Regions from separate parts of the Homo sapiens genome. Here all the other regions are linked to region 2. The links come from fine-mapping of genetic effects on gene expression. A gene starts in region 2. Each other region holds a variant in brackets. All regions are shown on one strand. Distances are between the middles of the regions. Region 1 overlaps CCM2 (CCM2 scaffold protein). Region 2 holds the start of TBRG4 (transforming growth factor beta regulator 4). Region 3 overlaps CCM2 (CCM2 scaffold protein).

The links.
Region 1: its variant is fine-mapped to the expression of TBRG4 in monocytes (Fairfax 2014, PIP 0.92).
Region 3: its variant is fine-mapped to the expression of TBRG4 in whole blood (INTERVAL, PIP 0.97).

Annotation. Positions count from the first base shown.
Region 1 is chr7:45,005,844-45,014,024 of GRCh38, reverse strand. All of the region lies in intron 1 of CCM2 (CCM2 scaffold protein), which reads right to left. Among named protein-coding and RNA genes, the nearest start is that of CCM2, 9.7 kb to the right of the region's middle. The variant T/CT (reference allele first, on the strand shown) is at 4,707.
Region 2 is chr7:45,106,583-45,114,763 of GRCh38, reverse strand. It overlaps TBRG4 (transforming growth factor beta regulator 4), which reads left to right and starts at 3,067. Exons shown (of 11, transcript NM_004749.4): 1 at 3,067-3,121; 2 at 5,477-5,937. The coding sequence starts at 5,527. RefSeq lists enhancers at 2,540-3,295, 2,659-3,368.
Region 3 is chr7:45,019,727-45,027,907 of GRCh38, reverse strand. All of the region lies in intron 1 of CCM2 (CCM2 scaffold protein), which reads right to left. Among named protein-coding and RNA genes, the nearest start is that of CCM2, 24 kb to the right of the region's middle. RefSeq lists an enhancer at 302-351 and a silencer at 742-811. The variant G/A (reference allele first, on the strand shown) is at 4,009.

The DNA of each region.
Region 1 (8,181 bases), 100 kb after region 2:
TTGTAAGTAAAATAAGAATAAATAAGAACTTTAAAATGAAGAAACTTGGCAAGACTATCTTAACCAAGTAACCACAGTTAACATCACCAACATGGGACAAATCGACATTATTTTCCCTGATATGATGCAATGAGAAGAATACATCATCTGTGTGGCAGTCCTATCAAAAACACATAAACTCATGAGGAAAAAACAGACCCAACTGAGAGACATCCTACTAACTGATCTGTAATCTTCAAAAATATCAATCATCAGAGACAAGAAAAGACTAGGAACCATTTCAAGTTCAAAGAGCCTAAAGAGACATGCAAACCAAATGCAACACATGATCCTGAATCTATAAAATCTATGGATCCTAGAGCTATATAAAGAAAGTATCATAACAATCAGCAAGTCTGGGTGGGGTCATGAATTACGTAGCAAGATCAAATGGATGTCAATTTCCTGATTTTAATGATGTCAGAATGGTGTGGTTAGAGTGTCCTTGTACCAAGGAAGGTACAGTTGAAGTGTTAAAGGGTCATGGGGCATTATGTCTACAGCTTATTCTTAATGGTTCAGAAATGTTAACACTTGAGGGATCTGGGTGGAAGGCGTATGAGGGCTCTGTGTACTCTGTATATACTCTGTGTGCTTTAAGTCTACTACGTATATATAATTAAATCATTTCAATATAAAAAGGTGAAAAGTCGATTGTTTAAAGCAAAAAAAAAATCTAATGTAAGATTTATAACACGTATAGAAAGAAAATATATGCCAAAAAGTTTGCAAAAAACAGGAGGGAGTACAAATGGAATGATACTGCTGATAGGTTCTTACAGTGTACAAGAAAGAAATGATATTAATGGATGGTAATCTGTGACAAGACATGGATATATATAGCAATATATAGAGGAGTTACAGCAAAAAAGCCAGTAGCAATAGAACAGAGTTAAAAATAATCAAAAAGGAGAAACAAAGGAAGAAAGCACAAAGGGAAAGAGAAAACAAATATCAAAATGATAGACTTAAACATAATGACATCAATTATGTAAACTTCACAATTAAAAGGCAGAAACTATCAGACTAGATAAAAAAGCAAGCTGTAACAAAATGCTCTTTATAAAGCATGCAGTTTAAAACTCCAGACTTGTTGAAAGACACACACCATGCAAACATGCAGCATAAGAAAGTGGGGTAGCCAGGTGTGGCTGGCTCAAGGCCGTAACCCCAGCTTCTCGGGAGGCTGAAGAGGATCACTGAGGCCAGGAGTTTGAGACGACCTGGGCAACATAGTGAGACCCCATCTCTAAAAAAAAAAAAATTAGCCAGGCATGGTGGCGCACACCTGTACTCCCAGCTACCTGGGAGGCTGAGGCAGAAGATCACTTGAGCCCAGGAGTTCAAGGCTGCAGTGAGTTATGATCATACTACTGCTCTCCAGCCTCGGCGACAGAGCGAGACTCTTCGGCAGTTGCTAAAGTCCCTAAGGCAAAAAAAGAATGTGGTGTAGCTATATTAATATCAGACAAGAGATTGGGACAAGAAGTCTTACTAGAAATAAAGATGGTCATGTCATAATGAAAAAGATTCATTTCAACAAGACATTATGGGCTGGGAGCAGTGGCTCACACCTGTAATCCCAGCACTTTGGGAGGCCGAGGCGGGTGGATCACCTGAGGTCAGGAGTTCAAGACCAGGCTGGCTAACATGGCAAAACCCCGTCTCTACTAAAAATACAAAAATTACCTGGGCATGGTGGTGCATGCCTGTAATTCCAGCTACTCAGAAGGCTGAGACAGGAGAATCACTTGAACCCAGGAGGTGGAGGTTGCAGTTAGCCAAGATCGTAGCACTACACTGCAGCCTGGGTAAGAGAGAAAGACTACCATCTCAAAAAAAAAAAAAAAAAAAAGATATTATGATCCTAAATGTGTATGTACTTAACAACAGAGCTTCAAAATACATGAAGCCAAAACTAACTAAAGGGAAAAACAAATCCAAAATAATAACTAGAGAACTTAACACCCTCTCTCTCAATAACTGACAGGATTAGCTGGATGCAGTGGCTCATGCCTGTAATCCCAGCACTTTGGGAGGCCAAGGTGGCTTTAGGCCAGGTGTCCAAGACCACCCTGGACAACATACTAAAATACTGATACTCTACAAAAACTTTTTAAAAAGTTAGCCAGGGCAGGGCACGATGGCTTACACCTATAATCTCAGCACTTTTAGAGAGGCCAAGGCAGGCAGATCACTTGAGATCAAGAATTTGAGATCATCCTGGCCAACATATTGAAACCTCACCTCTACTAAAAATACAAAAATTAGCCAGGCATAGTGGTGGGCACCAGTAATCTCAGCTACTTGGGAGGCTGAGGTAGGAGAATTGATTGAAACCAGGAGGCAGAGGTTGCAGTGAGCCAAGATCACGCCACTGCACCCCAGCCTGGGCAACAGAGTGAGACTCCATCTCAGTAAATAAATAAATAAATAAAGCAACCATTAAAAAATAAAACATAAAAATAAAAATTTTTAAAAATTAGCCCAGCTGGGTACAGTGGCTCACACCTATAATCCCAGCACTTTGGGAGGCCAAGGCAGCTGGATCACCTGAGGTCAGGAGTTCGAGAGGAGCCCGGCCAACATGGTGAAACCCCATCTCTACTAAAAATACAAAAATTAGCCGGGTGTGGTGGCGGGCACCTGTAATCCCAGCTACCAGGGAGGCTGAGGCATGAGAATAACTAGAACTTGGGAGGCAGAGGCTGCAGTGAGCTGAGATCGCACCATTGCACTCCAACCTGGGCAACAAGAGTGAGACTCCGTCTCAAAAAAAAAAAAAATTTAGCTGGGCATAGTGGCACACACCTATCGTCCTAACTACTTGGGAGGTTGAGGCATGAGAACTGCAGGAGTTTGAGGTTATACTGAGCTCTGATTGCACCACTACACTCCAGCCTGGGTTACAGAATGAGACCCTGTCTCTGGAAAGAGAAAAAAACAAAGAATTAGGAGACAAAAATTTAGCAGAAAGTTTGGCAGTGTCTTATAAAGTTAAACATATAGTTCCCATAAAATTCAGCAATTCCATTATTAGGTATTTACCCAAAATAAATGAAAACATGTTCACATAATGACTCATTCACAAATGTTCACAGCAGCTTTTTCAAAATACAAAGTAGACTGGGAGGCCGTGGCAAGTGTATCACCTGAGGTCAGGGGTTCGAGACCAGCCTGGCCAACATGGTGAAACCCCATCTCTACTAAAAATACAAAAATTAGCCAGGCATCGTGGCGGGCACCTATAATCCCACCTACTCAGGAGGCTGAGGCAGGAGAATCACTTGAACCCAGGAGGCAGAGGTTACAGTGAGCTGAGATCACACCATTGCATTCCAGTCTGTGCGACAAGAGCAAAACTCCATCTCAAAAAAATATATATATATATACACAAACTAGAAAGAAACTAAATCTCCAACAAATGAATAAACAAATCACAGCATAAACATACAACAAAATATTACTCAGCAACTGAAACATGCAGCAATATATGGATAAATCTCAAAAACATTATGCTGAGTACAGTGATCCCTGCACAACACAATGTATACTGTATGAATCCATCTGTATGAAGTTCTAGAATGAACAAAATTAACCTATGGTGGAAAAAAATCAGAACAGTACTACCTTGGGGGAAGGACTTTCTAAGGGGCATAAGGGAATTTTCTCAGTGATGGTAGGTAATATTTTATTTCTTAGTAGGGGTTTCAGTTACGTAGGAGTATGCATTTGTCAAAATTTAGCTAATATTCACTGAAGATGTGTATTATTTGGCCAGGAGCAGTGGCTCACGCCTGTAATACCAACACTTTGGCAGGCCGAGACAGAAGGATTGCTTAAGCCCAGGAATTCAAGACCAGCCTGGGCAACACAGTGAGACCTCGTCTCTACAAAAAATAAAAAAAATTAGCTGGGCATGGTGACAAACCCATTTAGTCCTAGCTACTGAGGAGACTGGGGCGGGAGGATCACTTGAGTCTGGGAAGTCAAGGCTGCAGTGTGCCATGATTGCACCACGGCACTCCAGCCTCTGTGACAGAGTGAGACCCTGTTTAAAAAAAAAAAAAAAGTGTGTATTTCATTGTTACATAATTTTACATCAAAAGAAAACTGTAAGCAAATATTGAACCCTAGTTAATGACATGCATGCTAATGTATTTAGATCAAAGTGAAACAATGTCTGCAATTTATTGAGGAATGCATCAGAAAAATAAAATGAGTTGATGGGCAGGTACAGTGATAAACAAATGCTAGATATGGGATAAAACAAGTATAGCCAGGCCAGGCAGGGTGGCTCATGAGTGTAATCCCAGCACTTTGGGAGGCCGAGGTGGGCGGATCATCTGAGGTCAGGAGTTCTAGACCAGCCCCACCAACATGGTGAAACCCTATCTCTACTAAATACAAAAACTTAGCCAGGCGTGATGGCACATGCCTGTAATCCCAGCTGCTGGGGAGGCTGAGGCAGGAGAATCGCTTGAACAAAGGAGGCGGAGGTTGCAATGAGCCGAAATCACGCCATTGCACTCCATCCTAGGTGACAGAGTGAGACTCCGTCTCAAAAAAAAAAAAAAAAAAAACAAGTATAGCCAACGTTAGTGGCAGAATCTAGGTGCAAGTATTCACTGCAAAATTCTTTCAACTTTGGTGTACTCAAAAATTTT[T/CT]TTTTTTTTTTTTTTTTTGAGACAGAGGCTCCCTCTGTCGCCCAGGCTGGAGTGCAATGGCGCAATCTTGGCTCACAGCAACCTCTGCCTCCCGGGTTCAAGCGATTCTCCTGCCTCAGCCTCTGGAGTAGCTGGGATTACAGGCACACACCACCATGCCCTGCTTATTTTTGTATTTTTGTAGAGATAGCATTTCGCCATGTTGGCCAGGCTGGTCTTGAACTTCTGATCTCAGGTGATCTGCCTGCCTTGGCCTTCTAAAGTGCTGGGATTAGAGGCGTGAGCACCGTGCCTGTCCCAAAAATTTTCATCATAAAATGCTGAGGGTGGAAGAATGTGCTGGAAAAAGCAAACACGGAGGCTGCACATACCTCTTTCAAGAAAGACGGACAATACTAAGTGAGAGGGGGAGCCTTAGAAAGGAACTTGAACTCAGCCTGATATTAGAAGTGCACAGGCAGGTGGGCTATGGTTATTGTCTATACCCAGTAGCATGAAAAGTAAAAGCTATGTAAAGGTGATGTATCTAATGGCAGTAATAAATTAGCTAGACATAATCATATCTAGGGCATTTTCAGACATCTGACAGAAAATCAACATGCACCATAACTGACACTTAGACCTGACCAAGGCATCTCATTAAGAACATGTACCCTTGGCCGGGTGCGGTGGCTCACGCCTGTAATCCCAGTACTTTGGGAGGCCGAGGTAGGTGGATCACCTGAGGTTGGGAGTTTGAGACCAGTCTGACCCACATGGAGAAACCCCGTCTCTACTAAAAATACAAAATTAGCCGGACTTGGTGGCGCATGCCTGTAATCCCAGCTACTTGGGAAGGCTGAGGCAGGAGAATCGCTTGAACCTGGGAGGTAGAGGTTGTGGTGAGCCGAGATCGCGCCACTGCACTCCAGCCTGGGCAAGAGCAAAACTGTCTCAAAAAAAAAAAAAAAAAAAAAAAAAAAGAACATGTACCCTTGGCCAGGCACGGTGGCACACAGAGGCACACATTGGTCAGGACTTCGGGAGGACGAGGCGGGTGGATCATGAGGTCAAGAGATCAAGACCATTCTTGCCAACATGGGGAAACCCCATCTCTACCAAAAATAAAAAAATTAGCCGGGCATGGGAACACGCACCTATAGTCCCAGCTACTTGGGAGGCTGAGGCAGAATTGCTTGAACCCAGGAGGCGGAGCCTGCAGTGAGCTGAGGTCATGCAACTGCACTCCAGCCTGGGCAGCAGAGCAAGACTCCACCTCAAAAAAAAAAAAAAAAAAAAATGTACCCCACCACATAAACCAACAAGGGAAACATTTCAGTTTCCACACCTGACCAGAGAGCTCATGGTGACAACACACAGGAAGCAAATTTGATTTTTTGAAAAAAACCTGTATGGAATTTTAAACTATAGAATAGACATAAAGATTTAAATAAAGGCTTCTCTCTTTTTTTTCTCCAAGGTACAAAAACAACATGTGAAATGGTTATCTCCCACTCCTCAACTAGGTTTCCCTTAAGAACAGTGACACCACGGGTTTAGGCTGACCAGTCTTCTCACTTTCAGAAAAGTGAAAAACCTCCTTGGGTTACAAGACACACCATCATCCTAAGCTGCAAACAAAAGCCCAAATTCCATGTTCCTATTATGCTTATTAAAGGGGATCACTTTCATTGCACATACATCTAATGCCTATGGTCAAATGCCCTAATTCTTAACATAATCCAAGCAAAAAATTGTTACTGTTTGGGCACACTTGGGAGAAAAAAAAAGGTCACATTTTTGGCACAGACACAAGGCTAAGGAAAAAAGTTCTTATTTTTACAAAACAAACAAACAAAAAATCCTAATGGTTCCATTGACAAATCCAAATGTAAACTCCCTCATACCTGTAGAATCATTTGAAGAGCAGTTGCTGTTCTTGATTGAAAGATAAAAAAGCCAAGGAGTGCGAAGCGCGCTAACAAAGATCCACTGTTCACAAGGACACAGCGATGCATGCAGAGGACATGGCTGGGCTCACTGCTCCCGCCACAGATCCCAGAGCACAAAGCCTGTCCCAGATGAAATGAATGACATCCCTGACTGTGCCAGCTCCCAAAACACCATACATGTTCTCCCAACCACAAAGAGTGTGCTGTGATTTATGGTTTACATACAGCACAGTGAGGGTTGTCCTGTCACTCTGAGCAGCTCGTCCGTGGCCATGTTGACAGTGTAGACTTGGTCCTCAGAACTCACCCCAGAGACCCTAAGGCAGCCAGCAGATGAGGCCAGAATGACCAGCAACATAAGGCTTGTTACTCTTCTGTCTTGATGAGTTACTACTGCACTTCTATCTACAAACTGAACTCTAGGGTTTGCTTCAAAATCACCTGGTGCATTAGCCTTCTTGGGCTGCCAGGACTAAGTATTATAGACTTGAGTGGCTTCAATAATAGAAACTTATTCTCTTAGAGTCTAGATGCTGAAAGTCCAAGATCAAGGTAAATTTAGCAGGGTGGTTTCTCCTGAGGTCTCTCCTTGGCTTGCAGATGGCTGCCTTCTCCATGAGTCCTCCAATGATCATTCCTCTCTGTGTCCTAATAACTTCCTATAAGGACATCCATCAGATTGGATTAGGGCCCACACAATTACCTCATTTTACCTCAATCACCTCCTTAAAGACTCCATCTTCAGGCCAGGCATGGTGGCTCAAGCCTATAATCCCAGCACTTTGGGAGGCCGAGGTGGGTGGATCACGGAGTCAGGAGATTGAGACCATCCTGGCTAATACGGTGAAACCCCATCTCTACCAAAAATACAAAAAAATTAGCCAGGTGTGGTGGCGGGCACCTGTAGTCCTAGCTACTCAGGAGGCCGAGGCAGGAGAATGGCGGGAACCTGGGAGGCGGAGCTTGCAGCGAGCCAAGATTGCACCACTGCACTCCAGCCTGGGTGACAGAGCAACAAGACTCCGTCTAAAATAAAAACAAATAAAAAAAAAAAGACTCCATCTTCAAATACAGTCACATCCTGAGGTCCTGGAAGTAGGGGCTTCAGCACATGACTCTGAGGGGACACTATTCGGCCCACACAGGCAGGAAGCAGGAATGAGGAGAAGGTGCACATGAAACTGACTGCCCACACATGGGCACAGGGGACTTCGTTACATGATTTTTTTTCTTTACATTTGCTTTTGAAGTTTTCATAAAGGTGTTCCTGATCACTCTTACCAAAGCCTGCTCCCACCATCCATCCCCGGGCTCCACTTCCTGCTCTGCAGCCACAGGCTCACCGTACACATTTCAGTCTCCAGCATCTGTGTCTGACACCATTGGTGCTAATAAACAATAGTTTAATGGACAAGTGAATGCATGATGTGGAACACCTCCAGTGGCTTCAAGTGCATACAGAACCAACACCCAACTTCCCAGCCCAAGGACTTCCCAGGACTGGGGGGTCCTCTCCACCTCATCTCTGCTTCTGAACTGCAGGA
Region 2 (8,181 bases):
TCCGTTTCTTCTTTTAGATAAACTGTAATCAAATCAATCTCCAGCCTCTCTCCTCTCTCTGGAGGTTGAGAGGTGGGGCTAAAAGTTTCAGCCCTCTAATCACATGGTTGGTTTCTCTGATAACCAGCTCCCATCTTCCAAAAGCCACTTCATTAGTGGCATAAACTCAGGTATGGTTAAAAGGGGCTTATGATGAATAACAAAAGATGTCACTATCATTCAAGAAGTTACAAGTGTTTTACAAATGCCCATCAATGATAGCCTGGATAAAGAAAATGTGGTACATATACACCATGGACTACTATGCAACCATAAAAAGGAATGAGATCATGTCCTTTGCAGGGACACAGATGGCGCTGAAAGCCATTATCCTTGGCAAACTAACACAGGAACAGAAAACCAAACACTGCATGTTCTCACTTATAGGTGGGAGCTGAACAATGAGAACACATGGACACAGGGAGGGGTACAACACACACTGGGGTCTGTCCATGGGACAGGGGGAAGGGAGAGCACCAGGATAAGTAGCCAATGCATGCAGGGCTTAATACCTAGGTGATGAGTTGATAGGTGCAGCAAACCACCACGGCACACGTTTACCTATATAACAAACCTGCACGTCCTGCACATGTATCCTGGAACTTTAAATTAAATTAAAATACACATACACAAATGAAAAACATCAGGATAGCAATTAGCTGGGGTGGAGGGATAAGAAAGAAGAGGAAACTCTCAGAAAATTGCAACAATATTGGTAATATTCTATTTCTTAAGTGGAGTAATGGGTTCACGGGTTTCTTTTCATAATTCTGCTTTGTAACTTGAGCATATTTAAATTTATATATACACTATATATATTATGTATATGTAGCAAACATTTTATAAATACAAATGATATTATCTTTATAAAATGCCTTAATGAAAACCTAAAGAAAAAAGTTACAAGGGTTTTAGAAGCTCTATGCAGAGACCACATATATATTTCTTAAGTCACAGGTGGCTTTTAGTATACTCAGTGTTGTGCAACCATCCCTATTATCCAATTCCAGGACACTTTTACCATCTCAAAAAGAAACCTCAAACCCATCAGAAGTCACTCCCTATTCTCCCCACCTCAACATCACATAGGTGACTCTATCAATTCACCTACTCTGGACATTGCAAATATAAATGGAACTATACAATATGTGGCCTCATGTGTCTAACTTCTTTCCCTTAGCATGTTTTCAAGGTTCTTTCCTCAACAAAACTCCATTAGTTTGTCTAAAGCTTTTCTTTTAACAGATCTATAAATCTGTTGTAATATTGTCTTTTGACAGACAACTTGTGAAGGATTTGGAGTAGAATTTGTGATAAATACATGGAATCTTAATTAACTGTTAACAGAAAAATCAAACTCTGTAAATTACTTAAAGAGGTTTATTCAGGGCCAATGAGTGACCACAGCCCCAGGAAAATACAAACCCAAAAAGCCTTAAGTGTTCCCGAGGCAGTCAGATTATAGTTTGGTTTTATACATTTCAGGGAGCCAGGGGTTACAGGCAAAGACATAAATCAATGTGTGGAAGGTATACACTGGTTTGGCTCCAAAAGACAGGATGTCTTGATGTGGGGGGTTTACAAGTTATATGTGGACTCAAATACATAGATATATACACGATATATGATTGATTGATAGATAGATAGATAGATCTCTTGGTAGGGGTAGATAGGGTCTCCCTATGTTGCCCAGGCTAGTCTTGAACTCTTGGCCTCAAGTGATCCTCCCACCTCAGCCAGCTTGACCAAGAGATTTTTTAATTTGCAACTGGTTAAAAGAGTGAGGCTCTGTGTAAAATTTGGAGTCAGCAGAAAAGAATGTTTAAGATAGTATGCCAGAATCAGCCACAATACACTGGGTCAAAAAAGACCTCTTCAGCAAGATTGATGGTCTGCAAGCTTGACTTAACCCTTGCCTTGCACGGCCTTAGGTCTTGTTTATAATTTGGTATCTTACTACCACAAAGTCTGTTAGTCTTATGATCTCTACTTTAACAAGGGGTGTTCAACCTCCCTTTCCAGAATGGCTGGGAACTCAGTTTTTAAGGTTTCTCTGGGGTCTCCTTGGCTAAGAGGAGGTCCGTTCAGTGCTTGGGGGGCTTACAATTTTATTTTTAGTTTACAAACACAAACAAACGTAATTATTTATTTTTATGTTTTTTGTTTTGTTTTTTGCGACAGAGTCTTGCTCTGTCAACCAGGCTGAGTGCAGTGGCAAGATCGCTGCTCACTGCAACCTCCACCTCCCGGATTCAAGCGATTCTCATGCCTCAGCCTCCCTAGTAGCTGGGACTACAGGTGCGCCCTACCACGCCCGGCTAATTTTTTTGTATTTTTAGTAGAGACGGGGTTTCGCCATGTTGGCCAAGCTGGTCTCGAACTCCTGAACTCAAGTGATCCGCCCACCGAGGCCTGGGATTACAGGCGTGAGCCACCGTGCGTAGCCAAGTAATTATTAACTCCACAGAAAATAAAAGGCTGTGCAGGAAGTAAAAATTAATCAAGTCCATATATAGACCTCAGATACATTTCGTTTGGGCTATCCTGCACTTTACTTTGTAATTAAACACCACTATTTAAAAATCAGGAAAATTGCACATAAAAATCCAGCTGCAAGTGGGCGCTCTGGAGTTCCCCAGTCTCCACTCACTCGTCCTCCCAGCCCCCACAGGCCTCAACGTCGCCTATCCCACTCCACCAGCCCAGTCTTCCACCGCCCTAGGAACTCTCCTACGCCTACGCAAGCAGGGAGGGATAGGGTGACAGCACCGACAACAAAGGGTCGTCTCCCGCACTCCGTATGAGGATGGCGTACTGGTCGGGGGGCAACCGAAGCCTTTCTTCCTAGGTTCTTTATCTTTTCTAAGTTTCCCATGACCTATCGCTCCGCTTGAGCCCTCAGCAAAGATGTCACCCGCCGAAAGGTGTGGCCGGAAGCTGGAGGCGTGGCTTCCGGACGTGCGGGGCGAGGCTCGTCTCGTTTCCGCCGGCGCTCCGAGTGACGTAGGGAAGCGCGCCGCGCACCTCATGGTTCCGGGGACAGTTAGGGCGGCGGATGGAGGTCAGCGGTGGTGCTCGCTGCGTAGGTCTTGTGGCACGGGGAGAAGGGGCGGCTGATCGTGGGTTTCGAGTGCACAACACAGGCGTGGCTGGGAAGGTCCTGGGATGCGGTGGAACTGGGGAGCAGGCTGGGACGCGGTGGGATGCCGTGGGCCTGGCCGTCTGCTCGTTCCGTGCTGGCTTGCCAGTGCGCACGCTTCCTCTCTAGCCCGCGCGGCCAGGCCTGGAAGACGCCGCCCCTGTTGACCGTCCATGACCCCAGCGAGCCAGTTTTCGTGACTTAGTGCAAGTTGTTTTCTCTCTGCATTTTAGAACTAAAGTTTTGGATTGCTGTTTGCCTAAACTCAAGTCTGGCTCCTGGGCTTCCGTTTACTCGGCTAAACTGCTCTTAGGGCTCTTAAAAAATTGGAAAGGCGGCCGGGCGCGGTGGCTCACTCCGGTAATCCCAGCACTTTGGGAGGCCGAGACGGGTGGATCACTTGAGGTCATGGTGAAACCCTGTCTCTACTAAAAATACAAAAATTAGCCAGGTGTGGTGGCGCGGGCCTGTAGTCCCAGCTATTTGGGAGGCTGAGGCAGGAGAATCGCTTGAATCCGGGAGGCTGAGGTTGCAGTGACTCGAGATCGCAGCATTGCACTCCAGTCTGGGCGACAGAGCGAGACTCCGTCTCAAAAAAATAAGTCGGAAAGATTTCTACACTGTGCTTAGGCTCAGGAAGTGGTAGATGTTGCGTTTGGGCAAATACTCCGACTCTCTGATCTCTCTCTCTTTTTTTTTTTCTTTAAGTGGAGTTAGACTAAGCTTTTTACAGCTGCTTTAATCCCCTCATATAAAAAGAAAATGTGCTGGCCATATACCAAGTTCCAGGAAGTGGAGAAAGATCAAACGTACATTCTGCTTTGGCAGAAATGAGGCCTAGGTGAACGTTTTATCTTGCCCTTGTCGCATGTCTTCCCTGGATCATGTAATCACCGTAGGGAGCTAGACTAGCTGATAGAATTTTTTTTCTTTTTTTTTTTTTTTGTGACAGAGTCTCGCTCTGCCACCCAGGCTGGAGTGCAGTGGCGCGATCTCGGCTCACTTCAAGCTCTGCCTCACCCTCCCTAGTAGCTGGGACTACAGGTGCCCGCCACCACGCCCGGCTAATTTTTTTGTATTTTTAGTAGAGACGGTGTTTCACCGTGTTAGCCAGGATGGTCTCGATCTCCTGACCTCGTGATCTGCCCGCCTCAGCCTCCCAAAGTACTGGGATTACAGGCGTGAGCCACTGCGCCTGGCCGATAGAATTGTTAAAAGCAACATCAAGGCTATATGTAACACATTGCTGGAGATGGCAACATTGAGTTTGGCCTTGGAAGGATGAGATGTATTTTAAAGGGTCTTATAGGGGGAGGAGGAGACCCAGATAACAAGCCCTGTAAGGTGAAGTGGAAGTGCAAGGCCTGTTTAAAATGGGGCCTTGTGTTGCTGGGAGGCAGAAAAAGCTAAGACTGAGAAAATCATTCTGGGCCATGTTATGAAGTGCTTCTTATTATTGGTTCAGAATTTTTGCTGTTAGAAATTTGGTGGGGGGGTTTTAGTAGGCTAGTGATGTAATCTACCTTGGTTTCGAGAGGCTCACACCTATGTCTACAGTGTTAAAATATATCCACAGAGGCTTTGGGAATGTGAATTTTTTTTTTTTTTTTTTTTTGAGATGGAGTCTCTCACCCAGGCTGGAGTCCAGTGGTGCAATCTCAGCTCACTGCAATCTCCGCCTCTCAGGTTCAAGCAATTCTTGTGCCTTAGCCTCCCAAGTAGCTGGGATTACAGGCGTGCACCATGATGCCCAGCTAATTTTTATATTTTTAGTAAAGATGGGGTTTCACCATGTTGGCCAGGCTGGTCTCAAACTCCTGACCTCAAGTGATCCACCCGCCTAGGCCTCCCAAAGTGCTGGGATTACAGGCGTGAGCCACCACGCCTGGCCAAGCCCGTAATTTTTAATCCTGGTTACCCTTGAAATAAAAAAATAAAAAAAAATTAATGCTGTCTAGGTCGTGTCTGCAGAGATGCCATCATTTAGGAGGCCTTGGGCAGGACCTGGGAATCTGAATTATTGAACCACATCCTAGGTGATTTCAAATTACAAGCAGGATGGAAACCCTCCCACCCAGGCTGTAATGTTCCTGAGTTTTGATATTTGATGGCATTCTGTACTGAAACAAAAATCCTGTGAGACTTTTGCTTTAGAAAATACTATCACATACCTATGGATTGTCAAGAAAGACTTAGTCTGATTTTACAGATAGAGTGGCTTTGACTATTTCATTTCTCAAGTTTGTGAGTCAGGAACTGCCCCTGTAGTAGCCCCTTCTCTCTCCTTTTTCTCTTCAGGGTTTGGAATCACTTGCTAGGAGTCTTGTCTCTCTGCCACCCAGGACATCATGGCAGCTCACCTGGTAAAGCGATGCACGTGCCTCCTGAGAGAAGCTGCTCGTCAGGCCCCTGCCATGGCTCCAGTTGGCCGACTGAGACTTGCCTGGGTAGCCCATAAGACTCTGACTTCCTCAGCCACCTCACCCATTTCCCACCTCCCAGGTTCCTTGATGGAGCCGGTGGAGAAGGAACGAGCATCTACTCCCTACATAGAGAAGCAGGTGGACCACCTCATCAAGAAGGCCACAAGGCCAGAGGAGCTCCTGGAGCTACTTGGTGGCAGTCACGACTTGGACAGCAATCAAGCAGCAATGGTACTTATCCGGCTCTCTCACTTGCTGTCTGAGAAGCCAGAAGATAAAGGCTTGCTCATACAGGATGCCCACTTTCATCAACTTCTCTGTCTGCTCAACAGTCAGGTGGGTGCCGGAGTGTGGTCTGAGAGCATAGACAAGAGGAAAACAGCCAGAAATGCTGGGGTCCACAGCAGCCAGTGCTTACCAAGCATAGACAGGGGCCTTGCATCTCTTGTGATATTTTTTATTTTTTTATAAATTTCAAAGTGCTTTATCGTGCTTTCTCTTTGTTTATCCTTACAAGAGGCCTGTTAGGTAAATATTGCTATGCTCGTCTTACAGACAGCCAAGACGCATAGTGATAGAAGCATGGGAAGTGAGCCTGGTTCTTCTCAGTTCTTTGGGTGCTTTCCCCCTCACCATATAGTCTTGACTTGTATTGCTCTCTGCCAGTGTCTGGCTGATGGCAAGGCACTGTTTTTGAAGCCAAAGGAGATGCAGCATGACTGATGGAAGGTCCTTGAAACTTGAGACAGACGTGGGCATGATCTAGCCATGTTCAGACCCTCCAAGGATGACCATGGAGAGAAGCAACAAGACCCATTTGTGTGGCACTGAGCAGGGCAGAACTCAGACTACAGAAGCCAGTTCCTGCTCACTGTGAGGGACTCCCTTCTTAGAGAGTCTTCCCCTGGGCTCCATGTACAAAAAAAGGAGTACAGACTCCTGCTGTGGCTGAACTGGCCCTAAATCCCTGGTCTGCTTTGGAAGGGAAGTGCTGGGGCACTGAAACCATGTTTCCAGTTGTCAGGTGTAATGAAGAGAAAGGCACTATCCAAGGAAGGAGTTGCACTAACTGAGTGCTTTTCAAACTGCAGGTTATAAAATCAGTGTAGTGGGATGTGGCCAGCTGATTCTTAATGAGGTAGAGTAGTATAAAAAATACCAGAATTCATCACATATAGTAAGGGGATTCACTAATGTCTCATGGAACTTTTGTTCTAGTTAAGGATGTATATATATGCCTGTGTTGTGTGGACTGGGGTTACAGTACATAATTATTTCTTGCTGGGGATATAATTCATAAAATGAACTTAGTTAGGCCCCCTTGTTATTTGGCTACAATTCTAATTGCTGTTTATTGACTCTTTTTACTCACATGTGATTTAAGAAAGTCTTATGATGCAAGACTGAACATTGTAACAAAATTATAAGGCAAGTATCTGTAATGTAATAACAGCTTTCTTTTCAAAGATTTTCCTGCTGTCCATGAAACCGGAAGGTAGACACCCAGATCTTCTGTAAGATTAGAATTTACTCCAGTACTTTCTCCCTCCTCCCCAGCCCTTCAGACAGCAGCTTCTCTGTTCGCAGCTCACTTCCTTGAAGGTGTGGTTTCTGCTTCTCATTCATAAGCGCAGAGACTGAACCTGAGGGTTCAGTGTTGAGAGACTTGGCCCAGGAAAGGACAGAGCCATACTTGTTTTACCATCTGCTCTCTTCTGCAAGGCTGGATTCAGGGCCAAAGGGCTCTAGAGCCACCCATGTTGACACTGTGGGCCCTGTGGACACAGTACCTGAATAGCAGTTACCCTCTTCAGAAACAAAGCAGGCACCAGCAGAGAGGACGGGCTGTGGTGCAGGTTCCGGACCCAGAACTATGTAGAAATAAGTTCACCTTCGTTTACCTGTATAGTGGGACTGATGGTTCTCATAGGATGTTGGTGTCTCATGGGGGTACGCACACAGAAGGATGCCTGGCATTTAGTAAGAGCCTGTTCAGAGGTGCTGCTGGTAGCAGCAGCAGCTTGGTCATCCCTAGGAGGCCTCTGCATTTGGGAGTGGGCAGGGCTTAGTGATACCGGGGGTCTTTTTACCCATATGTCAAAAGCGTTCCTGCAAACCTTTGTGCCTGGGGTGCTCCTCCCTTTGCAGGCAGTTGAGGGTCTGGCATGCTTGGGTGCCGCGTCCCTGGAGGGTAAAGGTGGTGGTTCACTGCCTAACGCACTGCAGGGACTCCTGCTTATTGCAGCAGTTGCATTCCTAAGAAACTTTCACGTTGCCAGAAACTGCGAGATTGGTTTGTTAGAGAACAGTTTAGGGGTTGGAGCTTCTCTGACTCAAAAACAAATTATTTTCCTGGAGAAAAGCCAGTGTGTTTTGTTTTGTTGTTTGAGACAGAGTCTCACTCTGTCACCCAGGCTGGAGTGCAGTGGCACAATCTCAGCTCACTGCAGCCTCCACCTTCCAGGTTCAAGTGATCTTCCCACCTCAGCCTCCCAAGTAGGTGGGACTACAGGCATGTGCCACCACACCTGGCTAATTTTTGTAATTTTAATAGGCACAGGGTTTCACCACGTTCACCAG
Region 3 (8,181 bases), 87 kb after region 2:
ACCCTAGCTCACAATGGGCAAGCCCTGGGAAGCAGCCATGAAAGCCACCCACAAGGGACTCACACCATCATCATTCTAAATGGCGCTTTCCACACTGGACTTGCACCTACCTCATTCTCCATGGAATACCCTGTGTGAAATTCTGTTTGAGGAATTTCTTTGGAGAGATTCTGGTTCCTCCTCTGCCGACAGCTACTATGCATTCTCTACTCACTTCTGAATTTGTTGAAAAATATGGCCAGATGTTAGCCCTCCCTCTGAAAAAAACATGACTGAACAGGAAGACCAGAAACCACAGCTTCCTTCTGCAAAGCCACTGAAGCTGTTTACAATTTTTTAAAAGTTTAAAAAGCAGGCAGCACCCAGAAACTGTTGGCAAAATCCAAACAGTCTGCATGCACAAAAAGACACAAAGTAAACCAGCTCATTTTCCCTACTTCCCACAGCACGCGAACCCCACAAGCAGCCTCCCTGCATTTCCAGCAGAAATTCTGCAGTCAACAGAAGGACATTAATTTCAAAGTCCACCATTCTGCACATTCAAATGCCAAAGCTAAACAAGCAGACAGAAAGCACTGTGAGGGGCTACCATTTCCTGGAGACAACAGGCCGTGCTGTTGGTGAAGACCCATGGTACCTGCCTCATACGAAGGGTGGAAACACGCGACAAGGCTGTTCCAGTTACCCCATTTGCAGTGCTTGCTCAAAGGCAGCAAGATCTTTACAGAGATAACTCCATTCCCAGGTGGGGCTTGGGCAGGGCACACCGGGCTCTACGGGTCCTCAGCCTACAAGTGCCTCTACCTGCCTCCAGGACTCATGAGTTTGAGTCAGCAGCACTTTGAAATTAAACAGCGTGCCTCTGGCCAAGCTCACTTCTTCAAGGCAAATTTCCTAATCTAGAAAAGCAGAAGTTGGATCTGTTGCTGGTGAAGGCTCTTAGAACTCTGATAATTCCAGAATGGCTTGCAAATAGGGAGGGCTACTTAATTAAATATTCTGGTTGGCTGGGTGCGGTGGCTCATGTCTGTAATCCCAGCACTTTAGAAGGCTGAGGCAGGTGGATCACCTGAGGTAAGAAGTTCGACACCAGCCTGGCCAACACGGTGAAACCCCGTCTCTACTGAAAGTAGAAAAATTAGCCGGGCGTGGTGATGGGCACCTGTTATCCCAGCTACTTGGGAGGCTGAGGCAGGAGAATCGCTTGAACCTGGGAGGCAGAGGTTCCAGTAAGAAAAGATAGCACCATTGCACTCCAGCCTGGGTAACAGAGTGAGACTCCATCTCAAAAAAAAAAAAAAAAAAAAAAATCTGGTTAGAGTGACTATATTCACAGATCAATAAATAAACATAACAATTACAATATAATTTTTTAAATATTAGGTTGAACCAAATCAAAGTGCTGATTTTCAACAGTGTTTTGGCTATAAAAATGGTACTTTCATACAATTCTATTTCATTAACCTGTAACAAATAAAGTTTAATATTTCCTGATTCCAAAAAGACTGATTGCTTCAGAATAAAATTTAGTGCTTCAATTATTATTCCATATACCACAGATGTAGAAACTGTCATAAAGTTGGAAAAGCAGCATCAGAACTAGATTTGAGTCAATATCCGGTATTAACTGGACTGTCACTTTCTGTCTTTAAAAACCAGAGTAGAGTCACAATTTCAGATTGCTCCTTCCTAAAAGTTGCCTATACAGGGCAGAACCAGCTGACCCTGACCTTCAGGTAGGCTCAAAGGGAAAAAGGCAAACCAGGAGGGAGATACAGAAAGAGGTGCCACTCAGCTGAGCAGCCTCACCTCTATTTTGGCTACTGCAGGGAGGGGAAGGATTCCAGGGAAATAGACATGACTAAAAAGAAAACCCACATGCTCTGAACACTAGTCAACCCCAACCTTCCCTCACAAACACAGTGATCCCCACGGTCAGCATGAGAGAGAAAAGCCAAAGAACAAATGGGAAGAGACAGGCACAGGAACCTACATTCTAGCTAGTATACTTAGAGACACTTGAGAAGAACTGCATCCATAAAATAAGACTAGATAGCTATGAAAAAGAGAAAACGGCCGGGTGCAGTGGCTCCCGCCTGTAATCCCAGCGTTTTGGAAGGCTGAGGTGGGCAGATCACCTGAGGTTAGAAGTTTGAGACCAGACTGACCAATATGGAGAAACCCCGTCTCTACCAAAAACACAAAATTAGCTGGGCGTGATGGCGCATGCCTGTTAATCCCAGCTATTCGGGAGGCTGAAGCACGAGAATCACTTGAACCCAGGAGGCGGAGGTTGCGGTGAGGTGAGATCACGCCATTGCACTCCAGCCTGGGCAACAAGAGTGAAACTCCATCTCAAAAAAAAAAAAAAAAGAAAAAGAGAGAACAGAGAACAAGAAATATATCTTAGAAATTACAAATATGACTGCCAAAATAAAAAATTCGTAGAATAATAACAAGGACATAGCGGAGAGCCCAAAGAATGATGTGAAGGAGAACTGCGGGGTTGGCCAATGCCTGCCTGCTGCTGATGGCCACAGCTGCAAATGTTTTACAGATGAACATTTGCCACCAATTCGATAAAGGGAATCACCAACTTTGAACCCTGATTAAGCAAAATGTTAGCCCCCAAAAAGAATTCCATTCTCAGTAGTAGAACCATATTACAAAAAATTGTACTCAATTATTATACCTTGAATTTCATCAATAAAAAAATTTACGAAAATTTGCTTTCTCTCTTATATAAGTACCTACTTAATGGCCTCAATTTTGCCCCCTGGCCCACACAGCCTGAAATATTTACTGTCTGGTCCTTTACATGAAGTTTGCCAACCCTGTCTTAGAACATAAAGTGAAAAGGTAAAAAGTTTAACATGAGAAAAATTAAAGGCCACAGAAGCTGGGTCCATCGAGTCTAACAGTTTCCTAAGAGGAGAATAAGAGCAGGCAGAATCAAAGAGGGACACAAATATCAGAAGACAACAACGATGAACTCAATTTTATGGACAGAAAAAGCACAGTAACAAGTAGGCTGAATGTAAGAGACAAACCCTCAACATTTAGACTCATCTTCACAAAACTGCAGAATTTCAAGAGAATCTTAGGTTTCCAATAAGAAAATGCAAAAAAAAGTACCTGTAAAAGCAGTAAGACTCAGATCAGCATCAGATGTATCCTGATAAATGGGAATATGGTAATCCCTTTAAAATTCTGTGTGGAAATTAATTTAAATCTGGAAGTTAATTTAAAACCAAACTGTCAATCAAGGTGCAAAATAGTTATTTTCACACCTGCAGTGCCTTGGGATCTTTACACTCTAAAAACCCCCTTTTGAAAAACATACTAGAGGATCTACTCCCAGCAAAACGAGGATCATCCAAGAGAGAAAAAGATGTGGACTCCAAGAAACAGTGGAACCAACCCAGGAAGCAGAGAAAAGAAATCCCAGGGTGACAATGACAGTGTTCAGCAAGCAAACAAAGGAAAATCTGTAAGATTCCATTATGTAAACTAAGAGCCTAGAAGTTCTTGACGATAAAAACATGTTTCTTGGGCCTTGACTAAGGGCTGGCCTGGACATGCAGAGATGAAACTCCACAATGCCTACAGGTAATCATTTAATGTTTGACTGACTGCTGAATGGTGATGCCAGAAGTTATTATCAGCTGAAGAGTCTTTCCTGAACATTATAATCAGCTGAAGAGACTTTGCTGAACTGGCTACTCAGTAGAAATCCAAAAAGTCCACACTTTAGGTGTAAGGAAAACACCCAGAACTAAATTCAAAACTGATACAGAGGCCGGGTGCGGTGGCTCATGCCTGTAATCCCAGCACTTTGGGAGGCCAAGGCAGGAGGATCACCTGATGTCGGGAATTCGAGACCAGCCTGACCAGCATGGAGAAACCCCCAACTCTACTAAAAATACAAAATTAGCAGGGCGTGGTGGCACATGTCTGTAACCCCAGCTACTACGGAGACTGAGGCAGGAGGATCACTTGAACCTGGGA[G/A]GCAGAGGTTGCAGTGAGCCAAGATTGTGCCATTGCACTCCAGCCTGGGCAACAAGAGCAAAACTCTGTCTCATAAAAAAAAAAAAAAAAAAAAAAAAAAAAAAAAAAAAAACTGATACAGAGCTATCAAAATAATGACTAAACAAAGATGCACACGACAAAAAAAAAAAAAAAAAGATTTCCCAGTAATCTCACTGCCTACCATAATAAAACTGAATCTCATTCACAATAACAAGGCATTCTCTAGAAAAAGGCTGAGTAAACTCTACCACACAGGCAAGCCACCTGTTTTTGTAAATAAAGTGGGGTTTTCTTGTGTTTTGTTGTTGTTTTTGTTAGTTTTGTTTTTTGAGACGGAGTCTCACTCTGTCATCCAGGCTGGAGTCCAGTGGCACGATCTCAGCTCACTGCAACCTCCACCTCCCAAGTTCAAGCGATTCTCCCGCCTCAGGCTTCCAAGTAACTGGGATTACAGACGCGCAACACCACACCCGGCTAATTTTTGTATTTTTAGTAGAGATGGGGCTTCGCCATGTTGGCCAGGCTGGTCTCGAACTCCTGACCTCAGGTGATCCACCCTCCTCAGCCTCCCAAAGTGCTGGGATTACAGGTGTGAGCCACTGCACCCAGCCGTAAATAAAGTTTTATTAGAACATTTAAAAAAAGAAGTCTGGGCCGGGCATGGTTCTCTCACTTATAAGTGGGAGCTAAACTATGGCTACACAAAGGCACACAGAGTGATATAATGGACACTGGAGACTTAGAAAGGGAGAAAGTGGGAGGGAGGTGAGAGATGAAAAATTACCTACTGGATACAATGTACGCTTTTTGGGTGATGGGTACACTAAAAGCCCAGACTTGCAGGGTGAGGTGGCTCATGCCTGTAATCCCAGCACTTTGGGAGGCCGAGGCTGGTGGATCACTTGAGCTCAGGAGTTCGAGACCAACCTGGTCAACATGGTGAAACCCCGTCTCTACTAAAAATATAAAAATTAGCCAGGCGTGGTGGTGGGCACCTGTAATCCCAGCTACTCGAGAGGCTGAGGTAGGAGAATCGCTTGAGGTCGGGAGGCAGAGGTTGCAGTGAGCCGAGATCGCACCACTGCACTCCAGCCTGGCCAACAGAATGAGACTCCGTCTCAAAAAATAAAATAAAAGCCAGACTTCATCACTATACAATTCACCCATGTAACCAAAAACCACTTGTACCCCAAAAGCTACTGAAATTTTTTAAAATTTAATGTTTCTTTTGAAAGAAAAAAGAAAAGCAATTCATCAGAAACTCTAAAGAAAAGGCCAGGCACGGTGGCTCATGCCTGTAATCCCAGCACTTTGGGAGGCCGAGGCGGGCGGATGACGAGGTCAGGAGATGGAGACCATCCTGGCTAACACGGTGAAACCCCGTCTCTACTAAAAATACAAAAAATTAGCCGGGCACGGTGGTGGGCGCCTGTAGTCCCAGCTACTCGGGAGGCTGAGACAGGAGAATGGCGTGAACCCGGGAGGCGGAGTTTGCAGTGAACCGAGATCGCACCACTGCACTCCACTCTAGCCTGGGCAACAGAGCAAGACTCCATCTCAAAAAAAAAAAAAAAAAAAAAAAAAAAAAGCTGGTCCAAAAAAAAATAATGATCCCCACATGAAACATACTAAAATGTGGCCTAATTCTGAACGCCAACCACAGCACAGATTAATAATCTCCATTTGTTCTCATTGCTTCACATTCACCTTCCAAAGTACAGATTTTGTGGCAAAAAGCTACATCCCCTCACTTACTGTAACCACACTACTTGACATACAATTCAGACTACAATAAAGTCCTAGGTGTGCTCCACTGCTATTGGACTGTCATTGCTTCTAGGTGTTTTCCATGCAGATAGCTAAGAAATACGTGACAGCTCTAATTCAAAATGAATCTAGCAAAATTTTTCCTTAAGTTCTTTAACTTTATACTTGTATCCTTTAAATTCTTACATGAAAAAAAGGTTGCTACCTACATGGTTGATTTCACATGCCACTAATGAATCATAACCCACAGTGTGCAAAACTGTGAGAAGACAGCTTCAACAGCTGTCACAGCCACGCAAGGCAACAGCAGGAACAATGACTCCACCTTCCTTCCCTCTCTCATCCCTTCCCCTCTCCTCCCCTCCTCCTCCTCCCTGTCTCATCTTCCCCTGCCCCATTCTCCTCCTCAGCTCCTCCTCCTACTCCCCTGCCTCATCTCACTCACTCTGCAAACTGCACTTCCAAAGGCATACCCAGGGGACAGGGAGATGGTGCTTGATGCATAGTTTTATTTATTTATTATTTATTTTATTTTATTTTTTTTTTTTGAGAAAGAGCCTCGCTCTGTCGCCCAGATTGGAGTGCAGTGGCGCGATCTCAGCTCACTGCAACTCTACCTTCCGGGTTCAAGCAATTCTCCCTGTCTCAGCCTCCCGAGTAGCTGGGATTACAGGCATGTGTCACCATGCCTGGCTAATTTTTGTATTTTTAGTAGAGTCGGGGGTTTTACCATGTTGGCCAGGCTGGTCTTGAACTCCTGACCTCAGGTGATCCGCCCGCCTCGGCCTCCCAAAGTGCTGAGATTACAGGCGTGAGCCACCGTGCCAGCCTATTTATTATTTTTTTTATTTTTTAGAGACAGGGTCTTGCTCTATTACCCAGGCTGCAGTGCAGTGGCACAATCATGGCTCACTGCATTCTCTAACTCCTAGGCTCAAGCCATCCTCCCACCTCAGCCTCATGAGTAGGCTGGGACTACAGGCATGTCGCCACACCTGGCTTTGGTGCAACAGCTTTAAATCCACCTGACCTCTGCCCTTCTGACACAGCACTCGATATTCTCGACCTCATGAGCACTAAGACCACCCTCAGACAGTGAGGGAGATTCAGGCAGGCAGTGACAGCTCCCCAGAAAGCTCTTTACACAGTGGGCACTAAGCAAGTGTTTGAAATAAATACCAAGGTAATAAGACTGTATTATTACTGCTAACACAGAAAAGCATACACAAACAGGAAAGCAACGTGAAAGACTAATAACAGTTGTTTCTAGTGGGTGTGATTTTTTTCATATAATATATTTTGCTACTTTCTTCTGAGATACAAATGTATTTTTTAGTAAGAAAACTTAACAAGTTCATTTTGGAAAATACTCAAAATTTTTAGCAAATACCACTTTCACCTAATAAAAACTGTTCTCTTGAGAGGTGGGTAAAGAAAAAAAGAATAAACCTTGGTTCTACCATACAAAACAATTTGTTAACATCTACTAAAATTACAAATGCACTTATGTTTCCCAGCAAGTGCATTTTCGGGAATTAATCCTACAGATGCATTACATACATGACAGGTTAGAAAATTAATTGCTTCATTATTTTTTAAGCAAAATGACAACCTAAAAGTCCATAGGAGGGCTGCTGTTTAAATACAGTAGCCCACAGATAAAAATGCCATTCCACCCTAAAGAAGAATAAAGAAACTATATATCTATAATGAAAGAGCTCCAAAACACACTGTCAAGAAAAAATAAACCCAAAGAAGTTCTTATTCCCTTAAGAGAGAAGTAGACTGTATCAAAATAACTTTCTCACAGACCGAGATTATGAACTCTAGATAAAATGTGAAAAACAATCTTCTAAAGACACTGGAGACAAACAAGAAATAAAAAAGAAGCTTGGAATTTATATGACCCTTGAAAGAAGGGAACATCACTGGGCAAGATCCACTTTTATATTGCTTTACTCCTGAGAGTATGCCCCAGTCTCAGAGGAGTGGAGCAGAGAAAAAAAAGCTGCAATTTTATTGGCCTGACAGGTTAAAGGAGGATTTGAGACTGCTAAAGAAGCTGGAAATTGAGAGGGAAATATAGGAAAGGAGGAACCCACTAAAAAAGGAACCCAAAGTCTGAGTATAAGGTCCCCTCAAATCTTTGGCTGAACCCTGAACTGCGTAAGCGGAGGTGAGACTCCCACAAGCCCAGAAAGGACACGATAGCTTGAAGGTTGAAGGAGCAAGCTGATGGCTGGGTGCGGGAGCTCATGCCTATAATCCCAGCACTTTGGGCGGCCAAGGCAGGAAGATCACTTGAGTTCAGGAGTTTGAAACCAGCCTGGGCAACATAGTGAGACCCCATTTCTACAAAAATAAAAATTAGCCAGATAGTGCATG